Linked DNA regions of Homo sapiens. The protein of the gene in region 3 purifies or fractionates together with the protein of the main gene of each other region. This does not show direct contact. Each region holds a gene or a part of one and is shown on either strand. Other genes may lie near its edges.

Region 1 (3,650 bases), on a different chromosome or scaffold from region 3:
ATATTTTATTATTACACATTTCAATCAGTAATTATTTATAGTGATTTTAGAGTTTTTAAGCTCATGATCTTATTTTGTACTGTTTTTACTGTTTACAAATACACATTAAACTAAAGAAGACAGAGAGATGGTATCTATCTAAATTTACCTGCATTGGGATTAGTATCATTTTATCCAAAACAACAAATTATAAACCACATATGAAAAGTCGGTTGAAGTGAATACAACTCTTTGAAGCAGTACTTGATTTTATGCATGTGTTCCCCTCAAATTAGATGTAAATCAAAAGTGGGGAGAACACACTCTTTGTTAAGGGTCCTAAGGAAGCTTGCTAATTAGAGATTCCTACATGAACAGCATGGATGCCAGCCTGCTCAGCTGGTACTAGCTTTCCCACACATTGTATCAGAGTTTTGCCAGTAAGATAGAACAGCTGATTCTTTGGGAATGAAAACTTTAAATAGCGAATAATTTGTCTCTTTTATGATACAGTCTATAGCTATAGTTCATTATAATAAAGAAACACCACCCTATTGAGAAGAAATGTGTCATTTCTTTTAGCAGTATGGATTTGTAATGTGTATCACAGTATGTACTATTAAAAAACAAGACAGTATGTTTTGGGAAGGGAAAACAATTGTTGAAGATAAGCGTCAACTATTTGAAATGGGAACAAATATGGACATAAACAAATTTTATGTGCAACATAAGCACCCTTTTAATTTCAGAAACCTCACTTTCCATTTAAAAACATGTCTTCTTATTGTTGAAGATCCAGCATATGTATCAATTTTCAAGCTGCCATCCTATTTCATACAGATCTTAAAAAATGGCCAGGTTTCTAATTCTCTCTCCTTACCCTTACTGAATTTCAACATGGTGCCCCCTCCAAATATATGATGTTGGTTTGTGCAGCTGGCCATGGTGGCTCACGCCGGTAATCCCAGCACTTTGGGAGGCTGAGGCAGGCGGATTGCCTGAGGTCGGGAGTTCAAGACCAGCCTAGCCAGCACGGTGAAACCCCGTCTCTACTGAAAATACAAAAATTAGCCGGGCATGGTGGCATGCACCTGTAATCCCAGCTACTCGGGAAGCTGAGGCAGGAGAATCACTTGAACCCGGAAGGCAGAAGTTGCAGTGAGCCAAGATCGTGCCAATGTGCTCCAGCCTTTTATTAAGACAGAGCGAGACTCCATCTCAATACATAAATAAATAAATAAATTTGTGCTTCTGAAGTAAAAAAAAAAAAATCCATATTTTTTAAATAAAAATTGTACTTAAGAGAATTAAGAATTCTTGCCTCTTTGATATGTAGTTCCTCTCTCCAAGAACTACTGGGGTCCGCTACCCTAACCTAGAGCCATCCTTCCTGAGAGAAATGCAGAAAAAATCCAACAGATGTTCAAAACAGCACACCCAATGGCTTTCCTGCCAGTCTCACTAAAGGTATCTTTTGCCTTTGATCCACTTCAAATGTTGACATTTGTCCATTTAAAGAGTACCAGCCAGTATGGACAAGTTCTCCATCTATGGAAAGAACATACACATTCTCTCTTATAAATCTTGCTGTTCCAAATCTATGGCCCTCCTACTCTTAAAAACCCTGCCTTTCCCTGAAGGCTGATTTAGTGTAGACTAAGATTACAGAAATAGCAAAGCCTCTGTGGAGATTGGAAAAGTCAGCTACACCTCCTCCCCATCTAAAAAAATCAACTAAGTTTAGCCGTAACGCATTGGTAATGAGAACAATACCGATAATTCTGGACTGTCTATGGCAATGAACACTTGGAAAGCCCAGAAGGGACACTGAAAATCAACAGACTGGCAACTCACACTTCCACGTGAAACTCTGGGAGCCTGTATGATGAAGTCAGACTACTTCGCTAATAGACAATTAGGCTTAAGAAATCCGAGTTGTTGGAGAAGTGAATAAGCATGTGGATAAAAGAAAAAAGTGATGTCAGCACTACATTTTTCTAAACCCGTAATAATTTTAAAATAATGCTTACCTTTTCTAATTATGAAATTAGTAAATGGTCAAAATAAATACTTTTAAAATGGCATAGGATGACGCAGTGGCTCACGCCTGTAATCCTAGCACTTGGGAGGCCAAGGCAGGCGGATCACTTGAGCTCAGGAGTTCGAGACCAGCCTGAGCAACATGTCAAAACTCCGTCTCTACTAAAAAATACAAAAATAAATAAATAAATAAAATAGCCACGCATGGTGGCACGCACCTGTAGTCCCAGCTACTCAGGAGGCTGAGGCAGGAGAATCGCTTGAACTGGGGAGGCAGAGGTTGCAGTGAGCCGAGATCGCGCCACTGCACTCTAGCCTGGGCAACAGAGTGAGACTCTGTCTCAAAAAAATAAAAATAAATGATACAAAAAATATAGAGATAAAAACACTTGAGAATCACATCACCCTGATACTGTTGTTAAGTTTCACTGATTTTCCTTTTTTCTCAACTAACATACATACTCTGAGGGGAAGAAAAAGGAGGGGAGCAATCCGTCCCTCCCTGCCTTCTGTGAGCACTGTACTGAGCACTGCTACTGACCTGGCCCATGCCAGTCCCAAGAACAATCCTTCAGAGGAGCGCCGCTCCCTATTTCACCAACATGGACACTGGGGCCCGGCCCAGGCACTCCCAGATGTGCAGTCCTCCAGGCAGTGTGGTTTGGGGGCTTGACATTTGTTATCTTGTGACTTTTAAAATAATTCTTGAGTTTAAAAACTCCCAGAGATTTCTTTGTCATAAGACAGGAAGTAGATTAAAGACAGAGAACAAAGGAGAGGGCCAGACACTTCCCTGGGTAAGAGAACCAATGGTGGGCTCGGGTCCTCCTCAGGGAACACCTTACTTAGTGTTTTCTGAGAAGGAAAAGTGACATCTCCAGGGTACTCAGGCTAGAGGAGGAGAATGACAATCAAACATGGACAGACTGCAGGAAGCCTCTGAAGTGAGGCCGTCAGATGCCTTTACTCTGGGAGATGCAAGTGATATTCACTCAGGGACATTTGCTCAGGCCTCCCCTATAAAGGGGTGGCTAACATCTAATCCACTCTGGAGCTGGGTGTTCACTATTTCCAGAGATGCCAATGTGAGGCCCTGCGTCAGCTTCAAAGAAGCCTCTGGACACTGTCCCCAACCACACCCCCTGCTCCTAGGCCAGTACCTGGCACTTCAGAGTCCTGAACGCACAATCACAACCAGCTGAGTGATCCGACAAGAAACGAGTGGAATGAATGCACGAGGTAAATAAAATGTACGTCACAGACAATTGTGGAAGCCACACTTCATGAAAAAGATAACGGCACTGCACAAAAGAGCAAAAGAGGCAAGTGAAACGCACAAGGAAATGAGGTGGCCGTGGGCACCCACGATGAGGCAGCAACCTGCATTTCTAATAGCACTGGGGTGAGCGTGGAGGAGATAGTGCTCTCTACGCAGGGCCTCTGATCACAGAGCGTGAAGACTCCCTTTTAAGCCCTTAGAGGTGAAACATAAGAAAAGCAAAAGGGCCTGCCAAGTTCATGCAGTGAGTAGCCAGTTTCTGGAACTTGCTGCCTGAAAAAGGAAGTAGGAAAGACTGGAAATCGGTTCAGACAGCAGACCCCGAAGTAATTATGACCACTTATGTGCCCCT
Region 2 (3,650 bases), on a different chromosome or scaffold from region 3:
ATTATATTTGAGATTTGAATGATTTATGATTATTCCATTTTTAATAAAATTAAATTGTTATTGTAATGAATGTCACCATCATTTCGAAGAACATTGCTGAAGTTTCTTATAATTCACTTTCTTTTTGGAAGATTGCTGTTTTTACTGTTTTACAGGTTTATAGGCTATTTATGATTTCTGTAGTTTTGATATTTTAAAATGACATTATTTTCTAAACCTTCAGAATATAGCTTTATCTTTTTAAAAAGAAGGTTCAGATTATTAAAAGTGAACTACTTCTTTTAACACAGTAGACCCAGAGCTGATATTTTCATTTATATCTAGCCTGATCAAAAAGAATTTATTAATACAGTTTTCATTTTTTGAAAGAATTTTACTGATAATAGTCTGTGACAGATGCCATAGTCTTACAAAGAAACTTGTCAGCAACAGTAGAACATTTATCACTGATAGATAAAAAAGCAGTTTAGGTATTATGTAGAGTATTATTTATAATGTAGAGACATAGGCTTTTTATGGCATTAGTCATCATTTGTAAACCTCAATATGAGATGGTTAATACTTGTTTGGTAATGCATCCAGTATCTCATTTTCTAATGTGTAAAATTAAAAATGCATTTTTAATTATTACACTTACACAACTGATTCCCCTAAGAAATGGAGCAGTGTGCTCAAACTGCACTGACTCCTTCATTTTCAGTAAACAGTTTTTGTCTGTGGCAAATTAGTTGTGAATATTCATTTCACTTTTATATATGCTTATTTTCTAGATATGGAAATCATCCGGCCTTTTACAGGTACAAGACGAAGACTGGCAATGCTCTTCCTATGTTTTATGTCTATGATTCCTATATTACCAAGCCTGAAAAATGGGCCAATCTGTTAACCACCTCAGGGTCTCGGAGTATTCGCAATTCTCCTTATGATGGACTGTTTATTGCCCTTCTGGTAGAAGAAAAACATAAGTATGATATTCTTCAAAGTGGTTTTGATGGAATTTACACATATTTTGCCACAAATGGCTTTACTTATGGCTCATCACATCAGAATTGGGCTAGCCTAAAATTATTTTGTGATAAATACAACTTAATATTTATCCCAAGTGTGGGCCCAGGATACATAGATACCAGCATCCGTCCATGGAACACGCAAAACACTCGGAACCGAATCAATGGGAAGTATTATGAAATTGGTCTGAGTGCCGCACTTCAGACACGCCCCAGCTTAATTTCTATCACCTCTTTTAATGAGTGGCATGAAGGAACTCAGATTGAAAAAGCTGTTCCCAAAAGAACCAGTAATACAGTGTACCTAGATTACCGTCCTCATAAACCAGGTCTTTACCTAGAACTGACTCGCAAGTGGTCTGAAAAATACAGTAAGGAAAGAGCAACTTATGCATTAGATCGCCAGCTGCCTGTTTCTTAATGCATTGATTAAAGTTTAATAGTTATCAAAATCACCTAATTTTTAAAAATAGCTTTCGTTTTGAGTTCTGGAAAGAAAACTGTCAAAATCAGTATATACTATTAGTTATATTTAAAAATATTTTTTTAAATTCTTTACAGATAATATTATACTTGTTACCCTTCACAATACCACATGAGAAAATATCTGAGACAAAATGTATACAAATATATTCCTTATGGCATAATTTATTGCATTTCTGACTGAAATCAAAATTCTGATTTGATGGCAATTGAATTTTCATTTTACAATAGATAAATGCTTGTGCTACCTAAAGCACTTAGCACACAGTTAAATTATATTTACATCCTAGACCCAAATAAATAGGATTGTGTGTATATTTGGGATATCTATTGAAGAAAAAAAGAAAACCCCTTAAAGATAATGTACATGCTTCATGTCATGTCTTTAAAATAATTTAATCAACTTTATTGTCTTAGTATTTAGACTCTGGATAACTCTACAATAATGAGGAAATTCTTAAGAATAACAAAATCACTGTACCTTCCTCTCAATTTTGCTGTGAACCTGAAATGGCTTTAAATTAATACTCTTATTTTTTATTTAATTTAATTACATAAATTAAACCTTACCATGACCAAATTGTGTTAGGACGGCCTGCTATCTACAGCACAGTGTGTCATTTGCAGATTTGTGGTTACCTATACCACGCTAGGTGTTTTGACATGTTTAGTGTTTCTGCTTTACAGTGCTGAATTCCATATTTTAGAAGCTATGAAAGTCCTTTTATGAAAAAGTTACTGATTGCTTCTCAGTTATTAGGAAAACAGTTGTTTCACAATTATTATGTAGATATGATGCCCAAATATCATTTTTAGTATATCTTGTCGATCTTTAAGTTGTTACTATTGTGTTATTCATGTCTTTAAATCAGATACCAAATATTTTTTAGGAAAGAAAAATGTTATTACTGTCATTAGGTTGTCTTTTAATACTTTAAGTTATTTTGACGAAAAGTAATAGAGAAAATTTACTTAGCATTTTAGATTCTAGAGACATGGAAATGAAAATTATTTTATGTCTAGAGTAGGTCCTGAAGTTTGGCTTTACATTAAGTTTAGCACTGTATCAGAATGAAGAAACTAATATTTTACATAAAAACTAATACTTTCAATTTTTTATATAGTAATATCCCCATTTTGTAAATGTTAGACTTTTATCATACCTGTAAGTTAAAATACTTGTTATCAATAACTTGTCATGTTGTGACAAATTGATCACTTGTGTACGAAAAATAAATCTCCTTAAAAACTAAATAAAATGCACTGTATTCTTACAGTTAATGTTTATAACTATAGTAAAAAATTAATATATATCCTATTACATAAATGTTATTTCTTAGGTGTTCCATTAAGAAGAGCAATAGAATAATGCTAAAAAATAATGCCTATAAATCTTCAGAGTATAAAGACATCCATTCAGAAACAAAAATTAGCACTAAATTTTTTATAAAATAGACCAGATGACAAAATTTATTTTATTTTTAAACAGTGGTTTTGACACAAATTATGTTATTGAAAAGCATTATTAATGTTTAATTTATTTAAAATTTTGGAATTTGCCATTTCTCAGAGAATGATCAGGCCTTAGGAAATTAATACAGTAGTAGTAATCATTTTCTAGGGGAAAATAAAAGAATAAATCACTATACTGATATTTTGATACAAGCAAGCACTTACATGGTAATCACTATATAGATCCAACCTGTGGATTTTCTTCTTATGTCCATTTAACTAGAATATATTATTTTAGGTATAATTTACAAATGTCACACCTAATAATCTTTTATAATATACCATATTTCATTAAAGTTTTGTTAGAGAAGTATCTACCACAGAGGAGTTTTTGTCATTGTGTACGTTGTGTATTTGAACCCACCATGACAGAAAGTAAATTTTAGGAAATAGTTATGAGATTAAGGGAAAATCTATAAAAACAAGGTTAGCATATTCTCAACACAGATACCACCACTTTCTTTTTCCCATTATAGACATGGTGAATCCACACAGCATACTTCATCTCTGAGCTTTGTTGTGATTCCTCAACACATTACCCTAACCAGCCAGCAGTAACAGATTTCAGAGTAAGATAAAGCAGATTCTGTCTTCATTGCAAAAAGTTATTCTCAATGGAAGAATGGCATCTGATCTCATAATTACTAG
Region 3 (4,282 bases):
GGGATTACAGGTGTGAGCCACCGCGCCCGGCCACATAAGCCACTTTCATGTTTGCCTACTGATGTTTGGACTTCAGAGTAGTGTGGCCTGTATCGATTTTCCAGGATTGCTCTTTTCTTTGTTGTTGTTTTTCTCCTTCCTTCTCCTATTTTGTCTTCCTAGGACTTGACACTTCACAACCTGCTAAAAAATGAACTTCCCAGGGCCGGGCACGGTGGCTCACGCCTGTAATCCCAGCACTTTGGGAGGCCAAGGCCGGCGGATCACGAGGTCAGGAGATGGAGACCATCCTGGCTAACACGGTGAAACCCCATCTCTACTAAAAATACAAAAAATTAGCTGGGCGAGGTGGCGGGCGCCTGTAGTCCCAGCTACTCGGGAGGCTGAGGCGGGAGAATGGCGTGAACCCGGGAGGCGGAGCTTGCAGTGAGCCGAGATCGCTCCACTGCACTCCAGACTGGGAGAGAGAGCGAGACTCCGTCTCAAAAAAAAAAAAAAAAAAAAAAAAAAAAAAAAAAAAATGAGCTTTCCTAGTAACTCAGGACCTGCCCGTCTAGAAATAAACTATCCTAGCCATGAGAGATAAGACAAAACCTGGGACCAGAGACTCATTTTCTTCTAAAATCTTGGAGAGCTTTCTCCAAGATTTTAAAGAGAAAATGGGGGGAAATGTGAAAGGAAAAGATCTTGAGCCCCCAGATCACTACAAGCTAAAGGGAGGAGTCTAGCTGGGAACTGCTCAGGGCAAACCTGCCCCCCATTGTATTCAAAGTCTCCCCTCTGCTCACTGAGATAAATGCGTATCTGACTGCCTCCTTTGGAGAGGCTCATCAGAAACTCAAAAGAATGCAACCATTTGTCTCTTACCTGCCTGTGACCTGGAAGTCCCCTCCCCACTTGGAGTCTTCCTGCCTTTGCTTCGAGCCGTCCTGCCTCTCCAGACCGAACCAATGTTCGTCCTGCATATGCGGACTGATGTCTCATGTCTCCCTACAATGTATAAAGCCAGACTGTGCCCTGACCACCTTGGGCACACGTCATCAGGACCTCCTGAGGCTGGGTCATGGGTGCACGTCCTCACCCTTGGCAAAGTAAGCTTTCTAAATTAACCGAGACCTGTCTCAGATTTTGGGGGTTCACACCGGCATGGTGACCCCCATGGGCTCTGTACCACATCTTCTCTGATCATGAGTCCCCTCCTCCCCAAAGATACCTGGCCACACCCCAGGGAGGCAACACCCCCAAGTGCCATAGCTCAGAGTTTTGTGCCTGAATCATCACCAGCAAAACAAAAGATCAGCAAGCATCCAAGTGAGCACTTTGCCCGGCGGCCTGGATTTCCCGTGGCCGGTGGTCAAGACTAGGCCTCACTAGCGCAGGCAAAGTCTCTCCTCTGTTCTGGGCAGCTCCTTGAATCACCCAGGTGGGTGCCAGTGGCACCACACACTACCGTCCCCTTTGTCCCCAGGGCTGTTGATTTGTTCCACCCACAGGCCAAGCAAGCTGACACAAGCGAGGTGAGCCTCCCACACTTGCCCAACCCCAGGAAAATAAATGCGAGGCTCAGGAAGGCTGCTGTCCAGGGCTGTGGGGAAGTGACTCGGGGCTTCCCTCCTGCAGGCCGTGCTCAATGAAGCCTGGGACACCCGGAGCCAAAGCTCCCTGGCCTTAGTGTGGGACGTGCAGCCTGCATGGGCTGCTGCAGTGAGCCCATCCTGCCAGGCAGTGAGACCAGCAGCTGAGGAGCCTGTGCCCTGGGCTCCCCGAGGGCCTTCGGCTGCAATGCCTCCCATGTCTCACCCACAGAGTCTCAGCTGGGGTCAGGCACACCCGCCCTGGCCGACCTCGGGGGGCCCCAGGGCAGCCAGGGGGGCCCTAGCTTGGCCACCAGCTAATCAAGTGAGCCTGATTCCCCAGCCCCTGGGCCTCTTCTTCACAATATGGTCACAATGTCCACAGGAGGGGGCATCTAGGATGGTCCAGGCCAGGCAGCCGGCCCCACACCTCTCAGCCCTGTGACGGGGTGTCCTCAGCCAGTGTCCTGGCAGCTGGTCTTAAGTCACCCCTTAAAGGAAGGTAACTGAATTCATGGCGGCACACGCCCCGGGGAGGCAGGGACCTGCCAGCGCAGGGACGGCTTCAAACTGCCCTGGAATCACCCCAAACAGGATGGCGAGCAGGAGAAGGAAAACGCAAGGCATCCTTAGCCACACCCACCACCCCTCCAAACCTAACTGGGAAGAAATCCACCTCCCCTCTGTTTACAGAAGGGAGACAGCACAGCAGAGCCCAGCCTCCCCGTCACCACCCAGAGCCCCGGGAGCATCCTGAAGCGCACGCATGACCAACGCTCCAGCAAGCGCCTGGCACTCCCACCAACACGGCCCAGCCATGGGCCTGAGCCGCAGACCGAGGCTGGGAGGTCCCAAGCCCAGCAGGTCTCACCCTCCCCAGCCGTCACGCGGACACTCGAGCGTCTCCACGCCACAGTGTTGGGGGGCAGCTTTCTCACTGGGCCCCACATCCCAGAACCCCCAAACACCCAGAAGCAGCACCAGGCCTGGGCAGGAGGGGCCCCCTACTTCCGAAACGAAGCCAAGACAGGTGAATTCAGGGAAGCCTGAGTAGGAACAGCCTCCAAATCCAAGTCACTTCCTTCGAAAGACAAACAAAACCCACTCCTGTCCGTCTCTCAGAATAGCCACAGATGAAGCGCTTTGTCCACCTGGGGGGTCCAACTGCCCCCCTTACCTCTGCAAGCCGCCCAGCATGGACATCATCTTGGCCTCTGGCCTCCAGCGAGGGGACAGTCGAGGCTTGAGCTCCCCCGAGGTCCCACCGCCTCGGCCCCTGCCGGCTCTGGGCTCCCCAGGGTGCAGGCACAGGCAGGGTGCGGCTGTGGGGCAGGTGAACTGGAATCCCCAGAAGCTCACCTGCCTCCTGGGACGGGAGCCACGCCCTCTCCCCGCACCTCCATCGGAGGGCTTGGTTTTAACTGTTCTGTTCTCGGGAAGAACTGGCTGAGGGAGTCTGGGGAGCCCTCGATGGGCCCCTGTGTTCCCCAGGCCCTGGGAGGACCTGCCTGGGGCCTACCCCTGCTCCCCTGCCCCACCCTCAGTGTCCATCCCCCCGGGGGGCTTGGAGGGAGCTGTCCCCACAAGGGACGGGCTTGGTGGGCTCCAACAGCACAGCGACGGCTTCTGGACTCAGAACTCAGGACCTGACGCAGACGAGAGGGCAGAGGGCCCTGTGGCCACTGCAAGGATGAGCGAGGAAAGCTCAGCCCAATTCCCAGCTTCCTCCCCCTCCTCGTCCTCCTCTTCTTCCTCCCCCTCCTCCTCCTCCTGAGCCTGCTTCACACCAAAAGAAAATCTGACTTTTTAAAATCTTGGGCTGGACAATAAGTTTGAAACAGGACATGGAGGTGGAAAATAAATATAAATATTTGTTTAGATTTTACTGCAAGAAAGTTCATTTCTCTTTTCAGGAAATAGATATTAATTCCGAGACAAGCAGCCAGGGAAATGCTGCAACATTGTGACCAGGCGCTACAGTGAATCCACAGGAAAACGCAAATGCTCCTCAGAGCTACGGGCCACGCGCCATGAGTCACCACCACCCTCGCCACATCCCACCAGCGCTGGTGCCCACCATGCCCTCCGACGCCAAGCTCTCCACACGGCTGGTCACCTTCCCACAACCCCTCCCTGTCGGTGCCAGCTGAGCCTGGATTCCGGGACTGGCCCCAGCCCAAGGCAGCCTCCCTGCCCTAGCCAGTGCCTGGCTCGGATGGGTGCAGGCCCCATAGCCATGGAGGCAGAAACAAGGCTGGGCTGAGGGGCTCAGAGGAGGGGCCGAGCACACATGGACCTCCCTGGCATCAGAGACCCTGGGCTGGGCGGCTGCTGGCGAAAGGCCCAGAGACCCCCAGCCTCCCTTCCCCATTTACCTCCACCTGCAGCCCAGGGGCCTGGCATCTCCGCCCCCGCCTAGGCATCACCCTCCCAGCTGCTCTGTAGACCTCCAGAGCCCGAGTCTGTGGGAGGGGCCAGCAGAGCAGCTCCCGGTGCTAACGGCAGGTGGGAGGGATGCCGGGGCCTTGCTGGCACGGCTGGGCAGCTCTCCACCGGCGTGCCCTGCATCCTCCGCATTCCACTATCCAGAGACATCCGTGTGGGTGTTCACTCCACCATTAAGGAGCCTCCCTGCTGCTTCCTCCACCCACCCTGCCCAGGGCACCACAGGCTCAGCCTAGGAACAAAGAAGATGGCGCCTCATGGGT

Evidence for each region.
Region 1: the proteins of GAL3ST2 (region 3) and STX16 purify together in Homo sapiens (affinity purification with mass spectrometry; one large-scale study listed by BioGRID and IntAct). This does not show direct contact.
Region 2: the proteins of GAL3ST2 (region 3) and MANEA purify together in Homo sapiens (affinity purification with mass spectrometry; one large-scale study listed by BioGRID and IntAct). This does not show direct contact.

The regions. Positions count from the first base shown.
Region 1 is NC_000020.11:58,661,241-58,664,890, reverse strand, and holds part of STX16 (syntaxin-16), read right to left. Parts: intron 1-3,650. UniProt on the Homo sapiens protein: SNARE involved in vesicular transport from the late endosomes to the trans-Golgi network.
Region 2 is NC_000006.12:95,604,978-95,608,627, forward strand, and holds part of MANEA (glycoprotein endo-alpha-1,2-mannosidase), read left to right. Parts: intron 1-770; coding exon 771-1,428; 3' UTR 1,429-3,650.
Region 3 is NC_000002.12:241,775,454-241,779,735, reverse strand, and holds the start of GAL3ST2 (galactose-3-O-sulfotransferase 2), read right to left. Parts: upstream 2,915-4,282; 5' UTR 2,781-2,914; coding exon 2,752-2,780; intron 1-2,751. UniProt on the Homo sapiens protein: Transfers a sulfate group to the hydroxyl group at C3 of non-reducing beta-galactosyl residues. Acts both on type 1 (Gal-beta-1,3-GlcNAc) and type 2 (Gal-beta-1,4-GlcNAc) chains with similar efficiency.